4 separate regions of the Homo sapiens genome follow, and regions 1, 2 and 4 are each reported to be linked to region 3. The links are microRNA targets in miRTarBase. Many come from high-throughput screens and were not tested one by one. Region 3 holds a microRNA gene; each other region holds the end of a gene's coding sequence.
What was found. Region 3 holds the annotated microRNA hsa-miR-197-3p (UUCACCACCUUCUCCACCCAGC, at 925-946, shown strand). A microRNA usually pairs through its seed, bases 2 to 8, with sites in the 3' UTR of a target mRNA and lowers its output. Matches are read on the target gene's strand: a 7mer-m8 pairs with bases 2 to 8, a 7mer-A1 pairs with bases 2 to 7 and ends in A, and an 8mer does both.

Region 1 (3,111 bases), not on the chromosome of region 3:
TGGTTCTACAAAGTAATTCATTCCAATCAAGCCATTTAGCTACTTGACTATAATGGAGATAATATTTTCAGGGTTCAGAGTTTTTGTTCTGTTTTGGCTGTTGCAGTAGTTTATGGCGTATATGATGTACGTGGTACGTATGTGGTATATAGTTTTCTTCTCTCTCCCAGATTGCACCAGAGCTGCTGAACAATTAAAGAATAATCCGCGACACAAGAGTTACCTAGAACAAGTATCCCTGAGGCAGCTAGAGAAGCTATTCAGTTTTTTACGAGGTTACTTGTCGGGGCAGAGTCTGGCAGAAACAATGGAACAAATTCAACGGGAAACAACCATTGATCCTGAGGAAGACCTGAACAAACTAGATGACAAGGAGCTTGCCAAAAGAAAGAGCATCATGGATGAACTTTTTGAGAAAAATCAGAAGAAGAAGGATGATCCAAATTTTGTTTATGACATTGAGGTTGAATTTCCACAGGACGATCAACTGCAGTCCTGTGGCTGGGACACAGAGTCAGCTGATGAGTTCTGATACCAAACACTCAAAACATGCATTGGGCTAGCAGAATATCCATGTTTATTACCAGACTGGTTCTGGAAGAAGCTGTAAAGAATACTAAATATGTTGGGTTATAGGGGATTGACCATGTTACTTTTCAAAACCAGGACATTTAAAGCATCTACTATGTAGGTGCATGAGGAGTATGGGAAAAACAGAATAAAGGAATCTGCCTTTAAGGAGCTTACAATCATGCCGGGTGCGGTGGCTCACGCCTGTAATCCCAGCACTTTGGGAGGCTGAGGCGGGTGGATCACCTAAGGTCAGGAGTTCGAGACCAGCCTAGCCAACATGGTGAAACCTCGCCTCTACTAAAAATACAAAAATTAGCCAGGCGTGGTGGCGGGTGCCTGTAATCCCGGCTACTCAGGAGGCTGAGGCAGGAGATTCGCTTGAACCTGGGAGGCTGAGGTTGCAGTGAGCCGAGATCGCGCCATTGTACTCCAGCCTGGGCGATGAGCAAAACTCCATCTCAAAAAAAAAAAAAAAAAAAAGCTTACAATCTGACTGGAAGATGTCAAAACCTGTGAAAAGCTAATTAGCAGTATTAAGCAACACAAACATTAGTGCCAAATGCATGATAAAGGCTAAAGAAGGCCAGAGCATATATTACTGTAGAGTAGAATAGTAAGGGAAGACTTTGTCCTTTAGTAAAGAGATAGGAGGTGGCCTGGCCCTTGAAATAGTAGTGTTTAGGTAGATGCTTGTGTAGGATTCCTGATAAGAGCAACTGAAAAGAAGGAGAGGGGAAGTAGTAAAGGGACAAGAAACAATTTTTTTTTTGAGGAACCATAAGCAAATTATAGTTTGACAAGACAAGATTGGGGGACATATATGGTTACCAGGGAATTACCTCTTATGTGTTATATCTTTATATTATTTATCTCTGGAAAAGAGTACCCTGCAAAATTCCCTACAGCTGCAAGCAGATGTCACTTGATGGACAGAGGGGGAATTCTGCCCCTCCGGTATCGGGAAATACATACTAAAGACATTGCGAAACGCTGAACCTCTTCCCATAAATAAAAGGTTTGTTTGTAAAATGGGAAATCCACCCATAATAAATGAACAATAGGCACTGCCAGTTTAGGCCTGTTCATGAATGGATCTGCAAGACAGCATCTTCGTTTAACAACATTATCTGTGATTTGATACATTTATCCTTATTACAATATTGTTTAGTTGGTAGAAATTCTATGTTTTCTACAAGGAAATTGATGTTTATTAAATAAAACTGAAAATAATTACTCAGTGTTTCTACCTGTTCACTTCCACTCTCCTTACCATTAAGCACTTCATTAAAAGGGAGCTCATTCTTGTAGTGATATCACCAGAGTTTTGAAATAGTCAGATCTCATACATACAGTAGCCAAAGGGAGCCAAATAATTTTCTGAATTAGAGATCTTTCCATATCTACATAGTATTCCTTTATTCTTTATTGTATAGATATAGGTAGTTTATTTTTTATTTGAGACAGGGTCTCACTCTGTCACCCAGGCTGGAGTGCAGTGGCATGATCACAGCTCACCAAAGCCTCAACCTCCTGGGCTCAAGTGAGCCTCCCCTCTCAGCCTCCCAAGTAGCTGTGAGTACAGGTGCCCACCACCACACCTGGCTAATTTTTGTATTTTTTGTAGAGACAGGGTTTCACCATGTTGCCTAGGCTTGTCTGGAACTCCTGGGCTCAAGTGATCCACCCACCTCAGCCTACCAAAGTGCTAGGATTACAGATGTGAGCCACTGTGCCTGGCTATAGGTAACTTATTTTAAAATTTGTCCTTGGGTTGCTGGGCGCAGTGGCTCATGCCTGTAATCCCAGCACTTTGAGAGGCTGAGGCGGGCAGATCACGTGAGGTTGGGAGTTCAAGACCAGCCTGACCAACATGAAGAAACCCCGTCTCTACTAAAAATACAAAATTAGCCGGGTGTGGTGGTGCATGCCTGTAATCCCAGCTACTCCGGAGGCTGAGGCAGGAGAATCGCTTGAACCCGGGAGGTGGAGGTTGTGGTGAGCCGAGGTCATGCCATTATTGCACTCCAGCCTGGGCAACAAGAGTGAAACTCTGTCTCAAAAAAAAAAAAAAAAATTTATCCTTGGGTTGTTTTCTCCTTTCATGACTACAAACAGTGCTACAACAAATAACCTTGTACATTCTCTGTTTTGCACATATGCAAGGATATCTATTAGATAAATGCCTAAAGGGGAATTACTAAGTATGTGCATTCTAAGTTTTAATAGATACTAAGTTGTCACCAATAGACGTTCATTCATTCATTATTTGTAGTTAATAAGCACTTACTACATTCTAAGCCTGTACTGTTCTGGAGTTTGGGGTTACAGCAGTATATACAGCAAAGTCCTGGGTTTACAGTTGGAGAGCAGAGACATAAATGCATAGAATAGTGTCATCAGATGGTAAGTGCTCAAAATGGGATGAAAAGGAGAATGATAGAGGGGATGGGAGCCACTGTTTTAGATCACATGATGAGCAAAGGCCTGAAGGAGGCAAGGAAAAATTGGTATGCATTTCAGGATTAGCGGGGAAAGGTA
Region 2 (3,111 bases), not on the chromosome of region 3:
GCCCAGCGAGGTGACAGCCTCGCTTGGACGCAGAGCCCGGCCCGACGCCGCCATGAGCGCCGCGCTCTTCAGCCTGGACGGCCCGGCGCGCGGCGCGCCCTGGCCTGCGGAGCCTGCGCCCTTCTACGAACCGGGCCGGGCGGGCAAGCCGGGCCGCGGGGCCGAGCCAGGGGCCCTAGGCGAGCCAGGCGCCGCCGCCCCCGCCATGTACGACGACGAGAGCGCCATCGACTTCAGCGCCTACATCGACTCCATGGCCGCCGTGCCCACCCTGGAGCTGTGCCACGACGAGCTCTTCGCCGACCTCTTCAACAGCAATCACAAGGCGGGCGGCGCGGGGCCCCTGGAGCTTCTTCCCGGCGGCCCCGCGCGCCCCTTGGGCCCGGGCCCTGCCGCTCCCCGCCTGCTCAAGCGCGAGCCCGACTGGGGCGACGGCGACGCGCCCGGCTCGCTGTTGCCCGCGCAGGTGGCCGCGTGCGCACAGACCGTGGTGAGCTTGGCGGCCGCAGGGCAGCCCACCCCGCCCACGTCGCCGGAGCCGCCGCGCAGCAGCCCCAGGCAGACCCCCGCGCCCGGCCCCGCCCGGGAGAAGAGCGCCGGCAAGAGGGGCCCGGACCGCGGCAGCCCCGAGTACCGGCAGCGGCGCGAGCGCAACAACATCGCCGTGCGCAAGAGCCGCGACAAGGCCAAGCGGCGCAACCAGGAGATGCAGCAGAAGTTGGTGGAGCTGTCGGCTGAGAACGAGAAGCTGCACCAGCGCGTGGAGCAGCTCACGCGGGACCTGGCCGGCCTCCGGCAGTTCTTCAAGCAGCTGCCCAGCCCGCCCTTCCTGCCGGCCGCCGGGACAGCAGACTGCCGGTAACGCGCGGCCGGGGCGGGAGAGACTCAGCAACGACCCATACCTCAGACCCGACGGCCCGGAGCGGAGCGCGCCCTGCCCTGGCGCAGCCAGAGCCGCCGGGTGCCCGCTGCAGTTTCTTGGGACATAGGAGCGCAAAGAAGCTACAGCCTGGACTTACCACCACTAAACTGCGAGAGAAGCTAAACGTGTTTATTTTCCCTTAAATTATTTTTGTAATGGTAGCTTTTTCTACATCTTACTCCTGTTGATGCAGCTAAGGTACATTTGTAAAAAGAAAAAAAACCAGACTTTTCAGACAAACCCTTTGTATTGTAGATAAGAGGAAAAGACTGAGCATGCTCACTTTTTTATATTAATTTTTACAGTATTTGTAAGAATAAAGCAGCATTTGAAATCGCCCCTGCTTCCTATATTCGCAGTGACTCCCGCCCGCCCGCCGGTGGCGCAGGACCCGGCTCGGGAAGGGTGCGTTCCGGACCCGCAGCCAGCGAGCACCAGGGAGCCCGGGCGCCAGGTGTGTGTGTGGGGGGGGCGGGGGGATGGGGCGCAGGCCCGAGCTACTCAGGAGAGAGGGTCTGTCGCTTTTAAAACGCATTAAAGGCTCTCTCCTGGCCTTATTTAACTTGCCTAAGCTAGGTGGAGCACGGCTGAGCTCAGGTAAGCTAGCAGCTTTCCAGCAGAAGGTGTTCTCCCGAAGAACGCAGACCTGGGGAAGGGTTGACTTTTTGGGGGCCCCTGCTGAGAACAGTTCAAGAGCTCCCTAACTGTAGAGGCTGCTGGAGGGGCGAGGGGCAGAACCCCGGGCTGAATCATCTCCCGCTTTCCCGGGACTTTGCTTTCACTTTCCTCAGTCTTGTGGACAGAGTCAAGTAGATTTTCAAAAGTGCTCCAGAAAGGCCGGAATAGTCATGTAGTGGATGAAAAGGGCAGTCACAAAACTGCTTAAGACCAGCTGTCTTGCCAGTAATTGCAGTGCTTTAAGATTTAATTAAAAAGCCGCCTGCCTTTAACCCAAGAACACTTGGTATTAGGGCACCATGTCTTGGTCACGGCTGCTACGTGTATCTGATGTAGTTAACCATGGCCTGTCATGATTATATTGCTATAAGGAAGGGAACAAAATCTTTATAGTGTCCAAAGATAATTAATTCTTGGTTTAAATCTTTGCCAGCAAAGCAAATATCCGACTGACTGCTCCTTAGTCTGTGATCTTTGCTCTCCGTGCACATTACCCAGCCTAATTAAAACAGGTGTGTGTGGTGGAGCCAGCTATCCCCACCACCATTCAGCAGAGACACGATCACACCAGTTCAGAGAGCTACACTTTATGGGTAACAGTTTCACCTGTGATACAGTTCCCTAGAACATTTTCCCAAAAGTAGTGAACTGCAAAGTGCTTAGGTTTGACATTTATTGTAGCAGAACAGTAATATCACAGTATGGGACAAAGGTTTACACTTTGCAGGGTATTCTTTGGGGGAATGTTAAATACTGTAATAAAAACATGTTCAATCATGGTAAAATGTTCAACTTGTTAAAATTACAAATGAACAAAAAAAATTTTTTTCTCATATATTGCCTAAATACCAAATGAAGAGCTTAAACTTAAGATTCAATGTGAAAACGAGTAAATATGTTCCTAAATTTGCAGAAAATAAAAGATAAACTGTAGAAAAAGGTATTTTGATTTACAGTTCACAAAACTGTATCTGAACATTTCCCCAGAAAAATCTAAGTTTCATTTCAAGATCGTAAACTACGTTCACTGTGTCCATAGTTAACAAATAACTACCCCAAATCACCACCACCACCACCACCCTTGCAGCCACATTGCAAAGTTCACAGATCCTGCGGCAACCGCTAGTGTTCTGCAGAGGCCCCTCCTGCACTCAGAAGCTCGATTTCCTCCAATCCAATGCAGCTGGTCGGGTGGGCGGTTACGGACTGGACAAAACAATTTAACAACCCCACTTCCTTTCCGAGGACACTCTTCACTTCGTAGCTCTGCAGTGATAAAAGGCACGCTGGTTAAAGCAAACAGCCTGGGACGTACTGTTCCCAACAACACGGAAAACCAGAGAGCCAGAGTGGAAGGCCCTTTCCCCAGTCCACGACCTTCCACTCCTCAAATGGCTGAGAACAGTGGTAGGAAGGAGAAACAAATGAAGAGCCACTACACACACACACACACACACACACCCACACACACACACACCCACACACCCATTTATTTTAGCAAGTGAAGGAAC
Region 3 (3,111 bases):
ACACTGCTGGGATAGAAGTATCTCAGTGTACCAGCATTCACTAAGCTATAAAATCTGTGACAGCAGGAATATTAAATTATGAACAACCTGGTTTATCTGTCTCCTCTTATCTTTTACCTCTCCCTACGCCCAAAATTCTCCTTAGGTTATCCAGACATTTTTACTAAGATGCTTATTTATATGTAAGAGAGATTTCCAGTAGATACAACAAAACACAAGAAATCACCTGTTCTGTTTATTCTTGCTCATGTAGGATAAAGGTCCTGAGACCTCTCAGAATCTTACGAGGTTGGAGAGTTGTTTGGAATGCTGGGTTCTGGTCTTGTCTCTGCTTCCAACCAGCTATGGAATCTTGTGTATTCTTTCAGTCTTAAATCACTCATCTGTTATCTAAAGATGGACTAAATTATTCCTTCCTGCTGTGATATTCTGTGGTTCTCATCAGATAGAAATAACATATTTGAAAATGCTTTGTAAATGTTATGATACTCAGGATTATACTGCACAGAAAAAAAAAAATCCTAAGGCAGCACCAACAAAGGTATTCAACGTAGTGGGTGGTCTTTTACAGCATTACTTTGCCCATATTCATTTTGAAGACCTGAAATGAAGTTGAACTATAAATTGCTCTAAAATTCGTGAAGCAGGGTGAAAAGGTCTTTGCTTTGTTTTACATTTAAATCCAGCTGTCTATTTTCTGCTTATACTAGTGCTTTTTCATGGCAAAAAGACAGAAAAGTTCCCTTCTGCAGTCTCCAGTGTCTTCTGACCTCACAGAAATGTTTTCATGCTTTTACCTAGCAGGACCACCAGAGGCTCTGTCACACTTGCAGTCCCTGGCCCAACACCGAAATCCTTCTGGAATCTGTGCTCTGGGGGCTGTGCCGGGTAGAGAGGGCAGTGGGAGGTAAGAGCTCTTCACCCTTCACCACCTTCTCCACCCAGCATGGCCGGCACACTTTGGTCTACGGCACATCTCCAAGTATAGAGTGGGTTTTGAATGCTGTTATGTCTCACCGTGGGGATGGGAAGGAATACTCTGTTTTGGACTATTTGGAGGTACATGTGAGTGGATTTTATTACCAGAGTAGGAACTGTTTCAAGTTAATGTGTCTTTTATGTTGCTTTTAAGACAACTTTTGTGCCGCTTTTATCCATTCTTCCTTTTATCCACAGAAATACAAATTTCTAATTATAGTATATTTTTTCTATTTTTAAAATTGTGATAAAGCATATATAACAAAATTTGCCATCTTAAGTGTACAGTTCAGTGGCATTAAGTACATTCACACTGTTGCACAGCCATCACCACCATCCATTTCCAGAACTTGTTTTCATCTTCCTGAACTGAAACTCTGTACCTGTTAAACAGTAACTCCCCATGCCCCACCTTCTTTCAGCCCCTGGTAACCAGCATTTTCCTTTGTCTCTATGAATTTGACTATTTTAGATACCTCATATAAGTGGAATCATAGTATTTGTCCTTTTGTGTCAATCATATTGTATTTTTGTCTAAAAAAGGAAAACTATCAGATTTATGTGAAATGTAACGTAATTTACATTTGATTTACTGTTAGTAATGTCTCTTTAATCATGCTATGCTAGGGAAGTACATTATGGTCTCTCCCTCTAAGAATATGAAGAGGAAATTTTACCTTCAACAAACAAGCAAACTTAGTTATATTTTTGTGATTTTATGCTGTTTTCATATTCTATTTTGAGATCTATTTGTCTTAGCTTGGAGGTGGTTTTGTTAAATGTCCACGATTTAGAGACGGCATAATGAAAAAATGACCAAGAATTTGGTTGGGAATGGGAGGAGCTTAGAAGAACAAGAAATTGGCTTTGATTTTATAGTGTATGGTGCTCTGTTGGTAGCTGGACATCATCACAGGCTTTGGATTGAGAAGACCTGTTCTGGAGTTCTAGTTCTGCTACTGCCTAGCGTTGTGATCTTGATGAAGATACTCTTCCTTCCTGGGCTTCAGTTTTTGATCTATAAATTGCTAGTGATGGGGCTGGACTATTTTTAAGTTTGTTCTAACTTTAGCAGTCTTAAGAATTAAGGTTGCATGCCAGAAAATAGGGTTAAATATTTGTTTCTGATCTGGTTACAAAAAAAAAAAAAACTTGATGGCTTAAAGTAAATAAAAATTCAACAGTACGGTGTAAATTTAAAATGAGGCAAAAGAAAGATAATGACTTAATTTTTATTTTAATCTTTCTTATAGCTGTTTTATATAAGAACTTTTCATGAATACAATCAAAATGTCCATGAGATAAAAATAAGCTAATTGTGCAGGAAAAGTACAAATGCACTTTTTCTGCAGCTCTAACATGTAAGGTTTGGGAACAATCGTTGGGCCTGACAAACAGTTGAGCTAGGGTAAGGGTGAATGCCTTTTCTGGAAGCCTATCAAGAGCATCGAGGTGAAGTCCTCTTACCTTTAATCATGGGAGAGCCCATTCTGGACCAAGGGTTTGAGAAAATTATTCTGACTGTGTTCTAAGGTAATAGGTGAATGGGTGCTCAAGGGCCCCTGTTGCATTTCATGTAGACTTGCCAGAAGAGTTTTAGCTTGAAAACATCATAAGATGAATATAGGCAGATCCCAAACTCAGTAAAAAAACAGCTATAGAATGTTGCTCTATCCTCCAAGATGAACACTTTACATAATGTTTGTACAAGGTGGCTTGTGTGAGTTTGTTGATAAACCAGTTAAAAGTTGGGATATCCCCCAGCTATCCCAAAAGAAGAGGACTAAATACAACCATGTTTTAGTCTGCTAGAGACTTGTGTTCTGACCTAAGACCTGTCAGAAGACCTGTCCCACTGGCTCTGCTTCTGTACTAGTACTATAAGGCAGGTTCTGTGTGAACATTAATAACCAAGGATCCTGAGTTAGACTTATAGTTTGGTCAATAACCAATTTATACCTAGATTGAAAGACCAAGGAAAAGTTAATAAAATAATCAACAATCTGGTACTATTTGAGGGAAAGTAGGGCTATCCTATTTGGAGATGGAATAAATGGGATAAATTATGTTTGGGGCCTGAATAGACAAGATCATAGCTTGTATAGTAAGGGTTCTTAACCTGGGGCTTCAGAG
Region 4 (3,106 bases), not on the chromosome of region 3:
GAAACCAGTTTTCTGTCTTACCCATTCCAGGAGCTGACAAGTACTTGTAGCCCTATAATTTCAAAGCCCAAACCCAAAGTGGAACCTCCAAAAGAGGAACAAAAAAATGCAGAGCAGAATGGACCAGTGGATGGACAAGGAGACAACCCAGGCCCCCAGGCTGCTGAGCAGGGTACAGACACAGCTGTGCCTTCGGATTCAGACAAGAAGCTTCCTGAAATGGACATTGATTGATTCCAACACTTGTTTCTATTAAAACAGACTATTATAAAGCTTTAAGTTGTCAACTTTGTTCTAAATATCAACTAGCGCAAGTGAATACTGAAGATTTCTTAGTCAGTTTTTAGGGGATTTTCGGGGAGGGGAAATAGGTAATGTATGGAGCATTTTCACTTCTAAATAGTTAGATACAGAAATTAAGTGCATTGTATCTTTTTCATAATGGTACTATTTAGAAGCCCAGTTAGTCTTACTGAGCTTATGCTTCACTCCTTTATGTTTAACCATGTGTCTACAAGAATAAGTTTGTTTTGGAAAGTTGAGCTATAGCTACAGCTCTAGCTATCCAGCAGACTTTTCATTATGACTTACATGGCAGGAGCTCTAATTATGCTTTAAAAATCTGTTGTGGAGATTGCTTTAAATGCTCCCTGCCTGGTGTGGGGATGGGGTCCCCCTCTTTGTGAGGGCTGGAGCATGGCACGGCATGGATTAACACGGCAGAGGAACAAAGGTGTGCTCTGAGCTTCTTCATATTTCACCTTCACCCTCACCTGTGTTCTCTTCCCTCTCTCCCAATAAAAGGGCTCCCATTATAAATGCCATGTACTTCTCTTGGGAAAATAGACCCCCTTGCCTAGAGTAAGTTGTTAACTGAGGGCTTTAAACCTGGAGGCTCTTCCTGAAAGTATGTTCATGAATACCCCAAGCATCAAGGTCTAAATAATTTTCAGAAGATTAGAATTGGGTAGATATACTGTTGGATATAGCCATGGTAAATTTAACTGAGGAATTAAATCCTTGTTAATTTTGGTGTAAAGATTTGTATCCTGGCCTGTTTATTCAGGTGGGAGATGTTCTGTATAATTTTGAGGTATAGCTTGAACTCCTAGAACAAGAGTTAAAAGTTCTTTTTAGCTCATTCACAATCACTTGTGTGTTAAGTGTTAATATCTGTCATGAACCTGCCAATTTGTACGTGTTAAGCAGCTGACAGATGATGCAAAAAAAACTAAGATACACTGGATTGTACTGGATGAGTCTGAAATTAGTGTTAAAGAAGTGTGGTGCCTGATGTTATAACAACACCTCATTCTTAACTGTGTGGCCAATGTCAGGTATACCAAAGCATTCCTCTGACTGCTTTTTGGGGCAGTGTTGACAGGAGTGAGGCATTTTGGAAACTCCAAGGGAAGCCTGTGTTTGAGGCCAGAGTTGGTACCTGCTTTAAGAAACTGTTACAGGGCTTGTTGGTAATGTTTTGAATCTTTGTAAAAATTGATATTCTGTATAACAGAGTGCCTCTCTGTTACTTTTGGCCTATGTTGTTAGAAATAAGATGCTATCTTGCATAGTTAGAATTAAGCGTTTGTCCATCTCTAGATAACATTGAAAAGTTTGAGTGTTACAGGCTCTAAAGTGCAATGGAGAACAATTGCTTAGGAGGAGGAAGGGGAAAGTATACTTATGTTGGTGTGTAAGCATGCATGGAGGCCTCGAGGCACCACAACAAGGCCAGGTTCTTAGCACATCCTCTGTTCTCTACCTGTCATGCTTCAAGAGTTCCAGCTGGCCTGCTGTGAAGCCAGTAGCTATTTTAAAAGTGCTGGCTGCAGGATTAAGCCAACCCTTTACAACTGGCCCAGACCGTAATGGCCATTTCTTCTTAAAAAAAAAAAAATTTTTTTTTTTTTTTTTTTTTTTTTTTTTTTTTTTTTTGGTGTGTGTGTGTGTGTGTGTGGGGAAGGGTGTGGGTGCTGGGATGGGGGTGAATTTCAAGTTGAAACACGATGATGTGGTCTGCTTGCTCTCTGCTTAGACAGGCTTTAAGACCAATTGGATTTTCATGGAGGCCAGGACAGAGAGTGGTAATTGATGGCTTGTGTACAGACAAGCATTTATCCAGGTTGCGTTATCCAAACTGATTTGTTAAAGCTCCAGGTCACGTTCTTACACTAAGAAAATCATTCAGTAAACATGAGACAAGTTTAGGAAAAACTAATAAAATAAACCTGTCTTAAACTTGAATGGTTTCCTTAATTCCATAATGAAGGCTGCTGGGTGTGTGTGTGGGGGTGTGTGTGTATGTGTGTGTGTCTGTGTGTATGTGTGTGTGGGGTGGGGGCGGGGGGTGTGTTTTCAATAAAAATGTTCTCTAGGAGTAGGAACCCTCTGAGCTAAATTTCACTTAACATCCGTTGAAGACTTCCAGTCTGAAGAGTGACAGCTGAAGCACACTGCCTACTTTGTGAGAAAATGTTGCCTAATTTTTCTGTACTCAAACTCTCCAGTTGAGTCTTGGCCCAGTTCCTTTGGTGTTAGGAATCCTTGTCTTGCTCCTGTGACTGGGCCTTACTTTGAGGGTTTTGTTAGCAGAAGGCGGGGGTTATGGCATAAAGGTAAGTGCTAGGACTTACACCTGGCCAAAGAACAGCGCGGTCCAGAGTGTGCTAGAATAGTTGGCGCCACTGGATGTGTGGTGTGGCTGCGTGGAATGTGTGTTGGTGTATGTATGTGGTGGTGATGGGTGTTTAAAGGGCACTAAGCCAGTGAAAAAGACCTTAACTGGATAAGGCATGGGTCTAGACGAGGAGGGGTCAGGGGTCTTGTTCCCTGGGTCATGCCCCTTGCACAGTCCTAGTCCTCTGGCTGTAGGAGCAGCTTACCTGCCAGGGCCTACCCAGGGCCTATTGTAGCCACGTGTCTGAGAAACGTGTGTCTAGTAGGTTTGGTTTCCTCCTGAGCATGTAAGTGGTTTCTGTAGGGGAATTGTTAGATGTGGTAGAAAGAGCTGAGATAGCTGGGTGTGGTGGTGTGCACCTGTGATTCCAGATACTTGGGGGGCTGAGGCAGGAGGATCACTTGAGCCCAGGTGGTCAAAGCTGCA

Region 1: miRTarBase lists CEP19 as a target of hsa-miR-197-3p. Seed matches in the 3' UTR shown: 7mer-A1 at 852-858.
Region 2: miRTarBase lists SPIDR as a target of hsa-miR-197-3p. Seed matches in the 3' UTR shown: 7mer-m8 at 2,661-2,667.
Region 4: miRTarBase lists HSPA4 as a target of hsa-miR-197-3p. The part of its 3' UTR that is shown has no 7-base or 8-base seed match.

The regions. Positions count from the first base shown.
Region 1 is chr3:196,704,972-196,708,082 of GRCh38, reverse strand. CEP19 (centrosomal protein 19) reads left to right here. Exons shown (of 3, transcript NM_032898.5): 3 at 171-1,806. The coding sequence ends at 532. Among named protein-coding and RNA genes, the nearest start is that of CEP19, 5.7 kb to the left of the region's middle.
Region 2 is chr8:47,735,062-47,738,172 of GRCh38, reverse strand. SPIDR (scaffold protein involved in DNA repair) reads right to left here. Exons shown (of 20, transcript NM_001080394.4): 20 at 1,867-2,866. The coding sequence ends at 2,723. CEBPD (CCAAT enhancer binding protein delta) reads left to right here and starts at 9. Exons shown (of 1, transcript NM_005195.4): 1 at 9-1,260. The coding sequence starts at 53. The coding sequence ends at 862. RefSeq lists a silencer at 461-650 and an enhancer at 47-985.
Region 3 is chr1:109,598,016-109,601,126 of GRCh38, forward strand. MIR197 (microRNA 197) reads left to right here and starts at 878; the gene lies at 878-952. GNAI3 (G protein subunit alpha i3) reads left to right here. Exons shown (of 9, transcript NM_006496.4): 9 at 1-2,180.
Region 4 is chr5:133,104,203-133,107,308 of GRCh38, forward strand. HSPA4 (heat shock protein family A (Hsp70) member 4) reads left to right here. Exons shown (of 19, transcript NM_002154.4): 19 at 31-2,247. The coding sequence ends at 234. Among named protein-coding and RNA genes, the nearest start is that of HSPA4, 54 kb to the left of the region's middle.